4 linked regions of the Homo sapiens genome follow. The protein of the gene in region 4 interacts with the protein of the main gene of each other region in a pairwise test. Each region holds a gene or a part of one and is shown on either strand. Other genes may lie near its edges.

The links. Proteins that work in one complex are often made in the same cells at the same time.
Region 1: the proteins of SPSB1 (region 4) and PAK1 interact in binary tests that used the Homo sapiens proteins (3 or more experiments, as listed by UniProt).
Region 2: the proteins of SPSB1 (region 4) and PECAM1 interact in binary tests that used the Homo sapiens proteins (3 or more experiments, as listed by UniProt).
Region 3: the proteins of SPSB1 (region 4) and TRIM55 interact in a two-hybrid assay, tested with the Homo sapiens proteins (one large-scale study listed by BioGRID and IntAct).

Annotation. Positions count from the first base shown.
Region 1 is NC_000011.10:77,355,595-77,359,094, forward strand, and holds part of PAK1 (serine/threonine-protein kinase PAK 1), read right to left. Parts: intron 3,424-3,500; coding exon 3,304-3,423; intron 249-3,303; coding exon 74-248; intron 1-73. UniProt on the Homo sapiens protein: Protein kinase involved in intracellular signaling pathways downstream of integrins and receptor-type kinases that plays an important role in cytoskeleton dynamics, in cell adhesion, migration, proliferation, apoptosis, mitosis, and in vesicle-mediated transport processes.
Region 2 is NC_000017.11:64,363,361-64,366,860, forward strand, and holds part of PECAM1 (platelet endothelial cell adhesion molecule precursor), read right to left. Parts: intron 38-3,500; coding exon 1-37. UniProt on the Homo sapiens protein: Cell adhesion molecule which is required for leukocyte transendothelial migration (TEM) under most inflammatory conditions.
Region 3 is NC_000008.11:66,130,129-66,133,628, reverse strand, and holds part of TRIM55 (tripartite motif-containing protein 55), read right to left. Parts: intron 1-3,500. UniProt on the Homo sapiens protein: E3 ubiquitin ligase that plays an important role in regulating cardiac development and contractility, muscle growth, metabolism, and fiber-type differentiation.
Region 4 is NC_000001.11:9,295,894-9,299,393, reverse strand, and holds part of SPSB1 (SPRY domain-containing SOCS box protein 1), read right to left. Parts: intron 1-3,500. UniProt on the Homo sapiens protein: Substrate recognition component of a SCF-like ECS (Elongin BC-CUL2/5-SOCS-box protein) E3 ubiquitin-protein ligase complex which mediates the ubiquitination and subsequent proteasomal degradation of target proteins.

The DNA of each region.
Region 1 (3,500 bases), on a different chromosome or scaffold from region 4:
CTACGACCAGCAAATCTCTGTGCTTGACCAGTCATAAAACGAAGAAAGGTTCAGAAAGCTACAAATTCCTTACGTAATTTCTCCAAGATCTCCTCATCAGACATTTTAGGCTTCTTCTTCTGCTTCTCAGTATTCCGGGTCAAAGCATCTGGTGGAGTGGTGTTATTTTCAGTAGGTGAAATGGGAGATGTAGCCACGTCCCGAGTTGGAGTGACAGGAAGTGGTTCAATCACAGACCGTGTGTATACCTGCATTATTAGTGCAAAATTTTGGCAAGACCAGCCTTTGTTAGCATAGGGGAACCTCTCCTAGATGTGAGGTTAGAACATCCACAGAGCAAACCCCAATAAACTCATCCTTTCTCTTATGTCAAAATCTATATTACTCCTCCTCTGTGCCCAGGCCCACCCATTCTGGGTAAAATGGCCTTCCTTACTCTCACTGTAAACAAAAGAAGTGAGAGTCTCAGCACTAAAGATATTCAATAGAGGCTAGACAACTATCAAAAGAAATTAGTTAAAGACAATTCTATTAGATAAGAATCCCCTTCATCTGTAATATTTTATGCTTCCCCAAGCTAAAAGAAATATCCTGTATTCCCCAAGCTAAAAGAAATATTCTGTAACAAAAGAAATTAGTTGAAGACAATTCTATTAGGTAAGAATCCCCTTCATTTGTAATATTTTATGCTTCCCCAAGTTAAAAGACATATCCTGTAGTAATGCAAATAGCACTTTGCATTACTAGTACAACACCAACTTCTATTGAGTTACTCCCTCCTTACATCCTGAACCCTTGCAGGGAAGGAACTACTTTTGTTCTTCATCAAGAGGTAGTAGAGTGTGATGATTTAGAACATGGACTCTGGAACCTGACTGCCTGAACTTAAATCCCAACTCTTATTATTCTTACCTTCTGCATGACTTTGGGCAGGTTACTTAACTTCTCTGTGTTTCAGTTTCCTCATCTATAAAATGGTGATAATAATGATAACTATCTTTTGGGGTTGCTGTAGGAGTAAACTGATTAATATGTGAGGTAATCAGACTCATCCCCAGCAGACATTAAGCACTCAAATTTTACCTTTTAAAAATATTAAATGTCCTATTCATTCATTTACATAACAAACATTTACTGAGAATCTATTTGTTGCCTCACCCTGTACAAAATGCTGCCCCAACCTCTCATTCTTATAAAGGAGGTGAGAAAATCATAACTACAAGGCAGAAAGTGATACATGTTATAAAGAAATAAGCAAGCTATATACTACTGAGGTTCAGAAGTGATCATAAATTATACTTCCTTTCCCCAGGAGATGCTTCAAGGTATTTAACAGATTTTATCATAAAAATATCACAATTATCTTTTGCATAGTCCATAAACAGTATAAGGACAGGGAATGTGGGTCATTCATCCGTGAGTTCCTCCATCTAACCACTTACTAAAAGAAAGCAAGCATTCAGGTAAATATTTGATGGAATAAATAAACAAACAGGATCCTGCAACTGGATCCTGAAGGACGGATAGGTTTCTACAAAGATAGAGGATCATTTATCTATGATGATCATTTATCTGCGATGATGCAAAGCCATTGGCAACAGTGGGACTCAAACCCATGGCTCCACAGAGACTAAAGCCAACTACATCCTGCACCTTGGACTGCTTGACCATGCTACCTTTTGACTGGACAGGCTTTTAATAGGTGGAAATGGGAGAGAACATTCCAGTAGTGGGAACAGCAATAAGCCAAGACGCTGAGATCAGAGGCAATGGCTTCCTTCCTGATTACTACTCTAGCATAATGATTTCTCAATTTTCTATTCTTGTACCTGTAGACAAACTATATCCCAGGCACCTAAACCTGTACTTCCATGCCTTGTCCTCTTTTGCCTGTCCTGATATATCTCTTTGAAGACAGAAACCTTGCCTTTTCCTTCTTTAATAGTCTCCTTCTCTGGCTCCTAGCACAGGTTTGTACACACAAAAATACCACTGTGCTATGGTGGAAAACAACCTGGAGTTGGGGTTAATTACCTGCTTTCAAATCCTGGCTCTTTTGTTTACTAAGAGACTGGGCAGATCAATTCACCTCTCCAAATCTCAGCTGCTTCTTCTATAAATTAGGAATTACCAATACCTTTTTAGAAAGAAATGCTATGAAGATCAATTAATTAATTAATTCAATATTTACTGTCCTCTGATATTTACCCACCTCTGCAGGTGCCAAGAACTATGTTAAGCACTAGAAATACATACATATGGATTTCCTCTACTTTTTGAGGTGTTCATGGTTTAGTGGGGAAAAAAATGTTTTAAATGAACATGTCTACAAACCAAAAAAAACCATATCAGTGTTAACGACTCTCCAATTTTGAAGCGCATTTTCCCTTGAGGTAACTTTGTGACCTACAGAGATGATTCCACAGATTCTGTTTGTAAGTTCTCATCCTAATAGGTCATATAATTCCTTTGAATTTCCTCCACAGCATCTCCAATAGTCATTCAACCAATTTCTGTTTGAACACCTCCCTGAATGCTGTATTCCAGAGGTAGCCCTTTTTTTTTTCTTTCATGATCACAGAAGTGCTAGATGGTTCCTTCATTATGGAGCTCTCATCTTAGTAAAAGACCTAAACAAAGAAACACTAGTAGAGTATCATCTGATGGTAGGTCAGTGCTCAGTGATGCCAAATTAAGTAAAAGGCACAGGGACTAGATGTTTCAAAGCAAGGTTAGAGGGACCATGGCTATTCTCAGAGATGCAGGAACCTCAAAGGAAGTTAAATAGAAATCACTGCCAACATCCGGCATCAAAATGCACTCCTGATGCCCAGCATATTAATAGCACTAATGTATTTATATATTCTCTTGGGTCTTTCAATATTATCAATAATGCTCTAAGAGGCTGAACACTGCACATTTAACAGAGAAGAAAAGATCTGTAGCAAGACAATTTGTTGCTTCCCTGGAGACTGGAATAATTTATGTTAGTCCTGCACTAAGTAGCATCAATCCTATATATCTTCCTGTCCTATCTGTGGAGAACCGAGACTGGACTGGTATAAACATCAATTACCTAGGACACTTTGGGACTATCTGCAAACCAATGATAAATAAACACATGATTTTTTGTCTTTAATCATACAGAAAGTACCTTTAGTCAAGGTAGTTCAGTGATTTCACCAGCTCCAAAATCTAAGGACGCCTACCAGAATATTAAACTTCTAGGTATCAGCACCAACTCCTCCCTCTCCCCACTTACTCTAATAAATCACAAAACTGGCCAGGTCCCCAAAGACTCACAGATTTTGTGTGCTCTGGGCGTGGAGCAATCACTGGTGGTGGGGTAGCATCATCATCATCATCATCCTCATCTTCTGAAACTGGTGGCACTGCAGGAGTCTCAGACACAGCCTTCACATTCTGTGCAAAGAAGAAAAGCAAGATGCATCTGGTCCAGCTGCCATGGAACTTAACTATCAGGATCACCAAACCTCCCA
Region 2 (3,500 bases), on a different chromosome or scaffold from region 4:
GTGAAGGAAGATTCCAGTTCGGGCTTGGAAAATAGTTCTGAAAAACAGTGAGTGGGAATGGAGCGAGATGTGTCTGGCCACCACCCTAAAGACCCTTCCTGGAGAGGCCCTTGGCTCAGGTGCTCTTGGCAGAACCAACTTCCAACTTCCAGCAAAAAGTTTTCCTTTGCTTCTCATGTACCTAACGATCACCCCAGTAAGGAGCTAGGGTTCATTCTTTGCCTAGGATTCCAATGGCAGGTTTTCCTTTCTTGTTAATCCAATTTATTTCAATGACAAGGATTAGAAAAGTTTTGCAACTTGTGGCCAGGTGTGGTGGCTCATGCCTGTAATCCCAGCACTTTGGGAGGCAGAGGTGGGTGGATCACCTGAGGTCAGGAGTTGAGACCAGCCTGGGCAACATGGTGAAACCCCATCTCTACTAAAAATATAAAATTAGCCAGCATGGTGGTGGGCGCCTGTAATCCCAGATACTTGGGAGGCTGAGGCAAGAGAATCCCTTGAACCCAGGAGACAGAGATTGCAGTGAGCCGAGATTGCTCCACTGCACTCCAGCCTGGGCAACAAGAATGAAACTCCTTAAGCTAGCAGAAGGCAAGAAATAACTAAAATCAGAGCAGAACTGAAGGAAATAGAGACACAAAAAACCCTTCAAAAAATTAATGAATCCAGGAGCTGGTTTTTTGAAAGGATCAACAAAATTGATAGACCGCTAGCAAGCCTAATAAAGAAAAAAAGAGAGAAGAATCAAATACACGCAATAAAAAATGATAAAGGGGATATCATCACCGATCCCACAGAAATACAAACTACCATCAGAGAATACTACAAACACCTCTAAGCAAATAAACTAGAAAATCTAGGAGAAATGGATAAATTCCTCAACACACACACTCTCCCAAGACTAAACCAGGAAGAAGTTGAATCTCTGAATAGACCAATAACGGGATCTGAAATTGTGGCAATAATCAATAGCTTACCAACCAAAAAGAGTCCAGGACCAGATGGATTCACAGCCGAATTCTACCAGAGGTACAAGGAGGAACTGGTACCATTCCTTCTGAAACTATTCCAGTCAATAGAAAAAGAGGGAATCCTCCCTCAGGATGATGAGGCCAGCATCATCCTGATACCAAAGCCGGGCAGAGATACAACCAAAAAAGAGAATTTTAGACCAATATCCTTGATGAACATTGATGCAAAAATCCTCAATAAAATACTGGCAAACCAAATCCAGCAGCACATCAAAAAGCTTATCCACCATGATCAAGTGGGCTTCATCCCTGGGATGCAAGGCTGGTTCAATATACACAAATCAATAAATGTAATCCAGCATATAAACAGAACCAAAGACAAAAACCACATGATTATCTCAATAGACGCAGAAAAGGCCTTTGACAAAATTCAACAACCCTTCATGATAAAAACTCTCAATAAATTAGGTATTGATGGGACGTATCTCAAAATAATAAGAGCTATCTATGACAAACCCACAGCCAATATCATACTGAATGGGCAAAAACTGGAAGCATTCCCTTTGAAAACTGGCACAAGACAGGGATGCCTTCTCTCACCACTCCTATTCAACATAGTGTTGGAAGTTCTGGCCAGGGCAATTAGGCAGGAGAAGGAAATAAAGGGTATTCAATTAGGAAAAGAGGAAGTCAAATTGTCCCTGTTTGCAGATGACATGATTGGATATCTAGAAAACCCCATTGTCTCAGCCCAAAATCTCCTTAAGCTGATAAGCAACTTCAGCAAAGTCTCAGGATACAAAATCAATGTACAAAAATCACAAGCATTCTTATACACCAATAACAGACAAACAGAGAGCCAAATCATGAGTGAACTCCCATTCACAATTGCTTCAAAGAGAATAAAACACCTAGGAATCCAACTTACAAGGGACATGAAGGACCTCTTCAAGGAAAACTACAAACCACTGCTCAATGAAATAAAAGAGGATACAAACAAATGGAAGAACATTCCATGGTCATGGGTAGGAAGAATCAATATCGTGAAAATGGCCATACTGCCCAAGGTAATTTATAGATTCAATGCCATCCCCATCAAGCTACCAATGACTTTCTTCACAGAATTGGAAAAAACTACTTTAAAGTTCATATGGAACCAAAAAAGAGCCCGCATCACCAAGTCAATCCTAAGCCAAAAGAACAAAGCTGGAGACATCACGCAACCTGACTTCAAACTATACTACAAGGCTACAGTAACCAAAACAGCATGGTACTGGTACCAAAACAGAGATATAGATCAATGGAACGGAACAGAGCCCTCAGGAATAACGCCGCATATCAACAACTATCTGATCTTTGACAAACCTGAGAAAAACAAGCAATGGGGAAAGGATTCCCTATTTAATAAATGGTGCTGGGAAAACTGGCTAGCCACATGTAGAAAGCTGAAACTGGATCCCTTCCTTACACCTTATACAAAAATTAATTCAAGATGGATTAAAGACTTAAACATTAGACCTAAAACCATAAAAACCCTAGAAGAAAACCTAGGCATTACCATTCAGGACATAGGCATGGGCAAGGACTTCATGTCTAAAACACCAAAAGCAATGGCAACAAAAGCCAAAATTGACAAATGGGCTCTAATTAAACTAAAGAGTTTCTGCACAGCAAAAGAAACTACCATCAGAGTGAACAGGCAACCTACAAAATGGGAGAAAATTTTTGCAACCTACTCATCTGACAAAGGGCTAATATCCAGAATCTACAATGAACTCAAACAAATTTACAAGAAAAAAACAAACAACCCCATCAAAAAGTGGGCGAAGGACATGAACAGACACTTCTCAAAAGAAGACATTTATACAGCCAAAAAACACATGAAAAAATGCTCACCATCACTGGCCATCAGAGAAATGCAAATCAAAACCGCTATGAGATACCATCTCACACCAGTTAGAATGGCGATCATTAAAAAGTCAGGAAACAACAGGTGCTGGAGAGGATGTGGAGAAACAGGAACACTTTTACACTGTTGGTGGGACTGTAAACTAGTTCAACCATTGTGGAAGTCAGTGTGGCGATTCCTCAGGGATCTAGAACTAGAAATACCATTTGACCCAGCCATCCCATTACTGGGTATATACCCAAAGGACTATAAATCATGCTGCTATAAAGACACATGCACACGTATGTTTATTGTGGCACTATTCACAATAGCAAAGACTTGGAACCAATCCAAATGTCCAACAATGATAGACCAGATTAAGAAAATGTGGCACATATACACCATGGAATACTATGCAGCCATAAAAAACGATGAGTTCATGTCCTTTGTAGGGACATGGATGAAATTGGAAATCATCATTCTCAGTAAACTATAGCAAGGACAAAAAACCAAACACCGCATCTTCTCACTCATAGGTGGGAATTGAACAATGAGAACACATGGACACAGGAAGGGGAACATCACACTCTGGGGACTGTAGTGGGGTGGGGGGAGGGGGGAGGGATAGCATTAGGAGA
Region 3 (3,500 bases), on a different chromosome or scaffold from region 4:
TTTCAAAATTTTAGAATCTGACTGTTGCAAAAGGAATTTCTGTCTGGTCTTGCAGCAATATGCTTTCCATGAAGTCTATGACCTTCTGATTTGACCACATTATTTGGAACTCAAATAAGGAAGTCAACTCCACAATTGAGAAAATTATCCTCCTCTCAGGTCTGTCTGTTTCCTCCACTAGAATATCAGCTCCATAAGGGCAGGGGCCATGATGAGTCTTTTTTTTTTTTTGCTGCATCTCCAGTACTCGGAACAGTGCCTTGCACAGAGGCAGTGGCTCCATAAATATTTGTTGCACAAATGAGTGAGACAATGAAAGGGAATTTGACCTATTAAATGGACAGTATTCCCTGTGCTCTAGTGTAACACCACCCAGCTGGAGAAGGCATGGCAAATATGGGGAAAGCCTGGGATCACCTGGCACTCCTGAGTGGCAGAGGAAGAGACCAGACCACATCCTGATTACTCCTTTAATAAATGACAGTGCCCTCTGGGGTTGGGACTGGCAAGTTGGTCTCTGCCTGGTCAAAGGCTTCTTCCCCTCTAAACCCTTCCCTCGTAGGTATCTCCACCTTATTATTAATGTGGGCTAAGCAAGAGTGGGCAGCTTGGGTCCCACATGCTGTTCTGATATCAACAGCTGTGACCAGAGATTGCGTCATAGAGCACAGGTCTATGCAGTATATGCAAATATTGAAAATGTGAAAACAGCCATAAGGCTCTACATTTAGTTTTGTTTGTGATTCAATTTATTTATTTTTTTCATGGTGCTGTATACACTGAGAACAATTTCCCATATTCCTCATTGGGTTTTTCTTATTTAGGTTGTAGCCCAGCCCCAGAGGCACCACTTACTCATAGATGAGCATATAATGAAACCTCTGTACAACTTCAAACATGTAACTGACTTGGGACCGATTTGGCATGTAAAAGAATGACATAAATACATGTTTATGAGGTGAGAGCAGCCAAGCTCACAGCTGTGGTCAGGGCCCAGTGCTAAATGTTGGCTGTGGCCCCTCACCGTTCAGTGTAGGCTAGACTGAGAAGTATGTAGCCTGCTGTCTCTGGTCTCTGAGGTTCCCGGGGCCACCCTAGAGTTTCCTGAGGAGTGGGCATCTGGTCTTGGTGAGGCAATTGAAGTAGTAACTTTGTAGTCAAACTGATATTTTTTTTGAGATGGAGTTTTGCTTGTCGCCCAGGCTGGAGTGCAATGGCTCAATCTCAGCTCACCGCAACCTCCACCTTCCCGGGTTCAAGCATTTCTCTTGCCTCAGTCTCCCAAGTTGCTGGGATTACAGGTGCCTGCCACCACACCTGGCTAATTTTTTTGTATTTTTAGTACAGATGGAGTTTCACCATGTTGGTCAGGCTGGTCTCAAACTCCTGACCTCAGGTGATCTGTCCACCTCAGCCTCCCAAAGTGCTGGGATTATAGGCGTGAGCCACTGTGCCTGCCCAAACTGATCTTAAAGCTTCATTTCAGCTCAGCTTCTCCATGTAGTGGCTATGTGGCCTTAGACAAGTTACTTAACCTCTTCTGGTCTCAGTTTTTACTCGTATCAAATATCAGATTAAGGGTCTTCTAATTAAATGTGGCAGAATGAACACAAGCATGTATTTATTTATGTATTTATATATGTATGTATGTATTTATGTATTTATTCTGCTGAAATCCCAGTGAAATGAGGATAAGGAAATAAAAGGGCATAAATCAATAAGGACAAAAAGTGAGCACAGATGACAGCAGATGAGAGATGTCAACCAAATGTTGGAAATTAGGAACATCTGGATGAAGGGACATGACCTACTTGAGTTGCATCTTAGTTCTGTTACATTCCTGCAGTGAGAAGCTTACAATAAGCAAGCTGACTTGAGCTATGGAACCCTGGAAAGGCTCTGGAACTGCAGGAGCCAGTAGTCCTGAAGGTGGAAGTAGGCGGTGACAGACTGGGAGAGGCTGAAAAGAGGAGGACTTTGTGCATGTTTTAAGAGATTACTTGAGGATGTGCTCCATAGAAATAAGAGAGTAAGCCACCAAACAAGGAGACCTGGAATCCAGGGAGCAAGGGGTTCAACCCAGGGGGAGAGTAAAAGAATTCCCAAGTAGAGGTAAAGCCCAGCCATGTGAGGGCTCAGTCCTAATTGTCTACAGTGGAAAGTCAATAGAAAATGTCTAAAATTGAAAAATCAAAGAATAGGAGCATACCAGTAGTATGCACATGTCATTGGTGATAAATAGCAGAAAAACAGCTAAAAGAATTAAAAGTGGTTGACTCTGGGGAATGAGGCTTGGGGGTGGGTAAAGAGAGAACAGAGTGGAGACTGCATTTCTCTTCAGAGGCCCAGTAGTAATGAATTCTAAAAGTTGTGTATGTTGATTACTTTAAGGCACTAAAAGCTTTAATAGGGTAGCAGTAATTATAATAATCAACACCTCACCGGATTATTGTGAGAATTAAAGAATTGCACATGATTCATGTGTTAGGCACCCTGAACAGTGTCTGGCATGCAGCACATAGTAGTTTTACTTGTTATATTTTAAAGTTAATTATTATTATATTAATTATTAATATTAGCCAAAATAGTACCTTCTCTTACCATCTCCCACTCCCAACTGTGGCTAGTCTGGCACCATGCAGAATTCTGGATAAGAATGCCAAGTTTTGGCTGGGCGCAGTGGCTCATGCCTGTAATCCTAGCACTTTGGGAAGCCGAGGCGGGTGGATCAAGAGGTCAGGAGATCGAGACTATCCTGGCTAACACGGTGAAACCCCATCTCTACTAAAAATACAAAAAAATTAGCTGGGCGTGGTGGCAGGTGCCTGTAGTCCCAGCTACTTGGGAGGCTGAGACAGGAGAATGGCGTGAACCTGGGAGGCAGAGCTTGTAGTGAGCCAAGATCACGCCACTGCACTCCAGCCTGGGAAACAAAGCAAAACTCCATCTCAAAAAAAAAAAAAAAAAAAGAATGCTAGGTTTTGTGGAGACTTACAGTCTCCAGCCTTTCTGGAGGAGGTCAGAGTTGACTGACAACATCCCAGTCTGTGATTGGTCACCCCCCCCGACCCCCTTCCAATAGCCACAGCTGAACTCTTTTCATTCTGTATATCCAAGGTCATTCCAGTGTTACCTAATGTACCCTGAGGCTCAAGATTCTGGTCTAGTAAGGCTGTCTGCCCCCAGGGGACAACTGCGTTTCCTCCCAGACATGTGGCCAAGTGCTCTGTGCAACTTGTGGTTTTGCTACCAAGTAAAATTGTCCCACAGGAAAGTCTCAAGTTCAAGAAAAAACAGCATAACAAAATCACAGAAAATCACAAAAGCATCCCTAGTTCACTCAACTATGAGCTTTATTGTTGGAAATTTGGTTCATTGCTTTTACGCAATTTACTTCCCAGGCCTGGGTACTATTTTTGGCAGCTGCACCAAGCCAACTTCATAGCTAAGGTGAAGATGTGTTTTGTAGTTTTACCAATACTGCAAGTTTTAACATCTCT
Region 4 (3,500 bases):
GTGCTAGGATTACAGGAGTGAGCCACCGTGCCCAGCCCCAGTATGATATCTGTGGAAGGGAAAGGTGATCAAGATGACTGTGAACTAAACTGTGACATAGGGCTGGAGAGCTGATATACCCATCAGCCCAGACCGCCAAGGGGCATTGCCGGCCTTACCAGCTGGATGCAAACTGCTTCTGCTGGGCCTTATGGACAGGTATAAAGAGAAGGGCATTCGTCAGATCAACAGCTGCATGCAGTAGCAGGGACCAGAGATGTGTGAATTTTGCAGTCACCACTTGGTTAAGTTTACAATAATCCACTATCAGTTTCTAAAGTCCATCTGTCTTCTGCACAGGCCAAATCGGAGAGTTGAATGGGGATGTGGTGGGGGTCACCACCCCCGCCTCCTCCAAGTCCTTGATGGTGGTGCTAATCTCGGCAGCCCCACCCCAGGGATGCAATGTTGCTTTTGATGTACTATTTTCCCAGGCAGAGGCAACGCTAATGGTTTCCACTTGGCCTTTCCCACCATAACAGCCCTCACCGCACAAGGCAGGGAACCAGTGTGTGGATTCTGCCAGGTGCTAAGTATGTCAACTTTGAATCTGGAACCAGGAAATAACCCCAGGATGGGTTCAGGGATCCACGGGAGCCACCAGGAGTCAAACCTAAGCTAAAACTCCATTGATCACCTGACCTCCATAAGCCCCTTCTCTGACTAGTGGGCCACAGTGAGTGATATTTTTGGTTTCCTGGAATCAGTATCAGTTCAGTAACCAGTTATCCCCGAACAATCTAATTATTTCCCTTTCCTCAATACATATTCACTCTGGTAAAAGGTCACAGGTCCCTTTGGGGAAGGCTAGGAGAAAAATTAATAGCATAAACTTTCTCTAGTGTACTGAGGTCCTTCTTCAAAGGGATCCAGCTTCCAATTCATTCATTCATTCATTCACTTATTCATTCACTTATTCATTCATTCGTTCACTTATTCATTCATTCGTTCACTCATTCATTCATTCACTCATTCATTCATTCATGGGGGCTTAGTTGTGTAAACTGGGTTAAGTCTGGGAAGTTGATTGAGGGCTGTGATTTTCTGTTTTAATTATTTTTCTGTTTTAATTATTCAAGTTAGACTTTTTTTCATTTGACCTGTAAGTTTCTGCTTATACAGAAAACTTAAAAGAATCAAGTAACTTATAAGATCAAGTAAGAATTTCACGGGTTTCCTGTCTATTTCACTTCTAGGAACACCATGATTAACTATCCAATGCCATAGATCCACACAAGTCAGACTATTCTGACGGCAGCTTTGCCTCTGCCGTCCATTAGGTAACCACACTCACCTTGCCTTGGATGGCTGAGTACTGCCACTTGGCCGCTGCACTCCAAATGCAATTACTCCCGTTGCATTTAAGTTTTCCATTTGAGTGACTGCGGCTCCCACTGTAAGGGCTGGATCACGGAGCTCTTCAGGGATGCTGGGGCCCCCTCACAAATCTATTTCTCAACGTATGCGTGAAAGATCTGTCTTCTGAACCTTCCCAGTGTGGGTGAGTAGCTTTTAAGAGACAAATCCACTCCAGCATTCCAATGTCCCTAAGCCTTTGAATCCCTAACTCTACATGAAACCTAAGCCTATGAATCCCTAACTCTACATTAAACCAAAGGAGACCCAGAAACTCCAACTTACTCACAGTGGGTCATCCTTTGATCCATGTTCCAGTCAGCCAACCAAACAGATCTCTTCTTAACCCCCTGAGCTACAACATCAAGTGCAGAATCTCCGCTTAGTGGGCCCATATCCATAAATTCGGCCAGATCCAACTTCATGTTCGTTCCACATCCTAATATCCACTCCCACACATGCTCCCTTGGTGTCTGCTTGTATAAATTAGAAAACTCAAGTGGTTCTCTTGGTGTGGAGTGCAGCTCCTCACTCTGACCTTGGAAAGGGTGTGACCAGATTGGCCACACTCTGACTGTCTGGCAAGGTGTGTTCACAACTGGGGCACCCGTCAAGCCCTTGTCACAGGTAGGTTTTTCCAACCCTGGAATCCTATATTCCTACTCAGCAGTCATTTCTCAAGTGTGGAGTTTGCATCCTGATATTTTCTTCATCTTGTGCTCAAATCACCCAATGCCTCCCTAGTTTTCCAAGAGACGCCCAAGGGTGGCAGAGGTTCTTGGATTCCTCCACCCATCGCCTACGCAGTAAACTCAAGAGGGTCAGGCTAAGCTTCAGGTCAGATTCAGAGCTTGTTGACAAACCATTCTCACAGTCACATCTCCTGACACCCAGCCCTGCCACAAATCCCATGCCTGCATTGCACAAGGTCTGGACCTCAATGGCAGGCAAGGCTGGGCTGTGCCTTGGCGGATTCTCTTCCCCATCTCCAAGAAAGGCCCCGAGAGCCTAAGCCTGTTGTTGATGTGGTCTGTCTCATGACCACTGGACTCATTTATTTTTAACGTTGGGCAATGAACAGAACTTTTAAAACACAAAGCAAACAGGCAGCTTCCCAAAGGTTTCAGGGGGTTGGCAGCAGGACAGATCCCCCAATGTGCTGTTGGGTTTTGCCATCCTCCCTTTGTCCAAGCAAGGAAGGAGCCTCAAGCCCAAGTCAGAAAGGACGTACATCTCCCGACTCTTGCCCCGCATAGAGTAACAGTCAACCTCTTTGAGATGTGATGCTTCCTTTAAATGCTTCTTAGGAAGAAGCTACAGATGACCTGACATCTTGTATTTGCTTCAAAATAATCCAGCGTGTGTGTGTATGTGTGCATATATGTGTGTGCATATGTATGTGTGTGTACACATGTGCACATCTTCTGTGAGCATAAGTATGCATGTGCATATGTGAGTATGTGTATGTGTGTGCATGCGAGGTGAGGAAACCTGATCGCTCATTATACTCTGCCTCTAACTTTGGTGTGTTTGACATTTTCCATAATAACAAAAAATTTCACTAAAAAAATGAGCCCATGCTTCTTGAAGAAAAGGCTCAGGTGGTGGAGGTGACAAACTTACTGGTGAAGGGCTTGGGTGCCAAGTCTGGATTCGAGTTTTGGCTCCACCATTCCCTTGCCGCGAGACCTTAGCCAAGTTACCTGCAATCCTCAGCAGAATGGACATGGAGGCAAAACCCACTTCTCAGGGTCCTCAGGAAGCCCATGAGTCAATGCGTCAAGGACTCAGATCAGAGCCAGTACTCGCACGCACCGTGAAACCATGAAACCATTTCCCGCTATTATTATGCTTAGGATTCAAACAAAGTCACGTCCATAAAGCACTCTGTAGCACAGAGCCGGGCACCTGGCTGCCAGTGGAACTTTAGACTGGGGGAGATGTTATCAGATAACTGGGGGAGGGGAGAGCACTCACTGAAAGTCCAAAATCGAAGTCCCTTAGAGTCTGGATTTCACTGATCTAGTGTTGAGGGCTGGGGAGAGGATAACACACCCCTGGGCAGACTGAGGCACACCTGTACCTGACCTTGTGCTGTCGTCTGA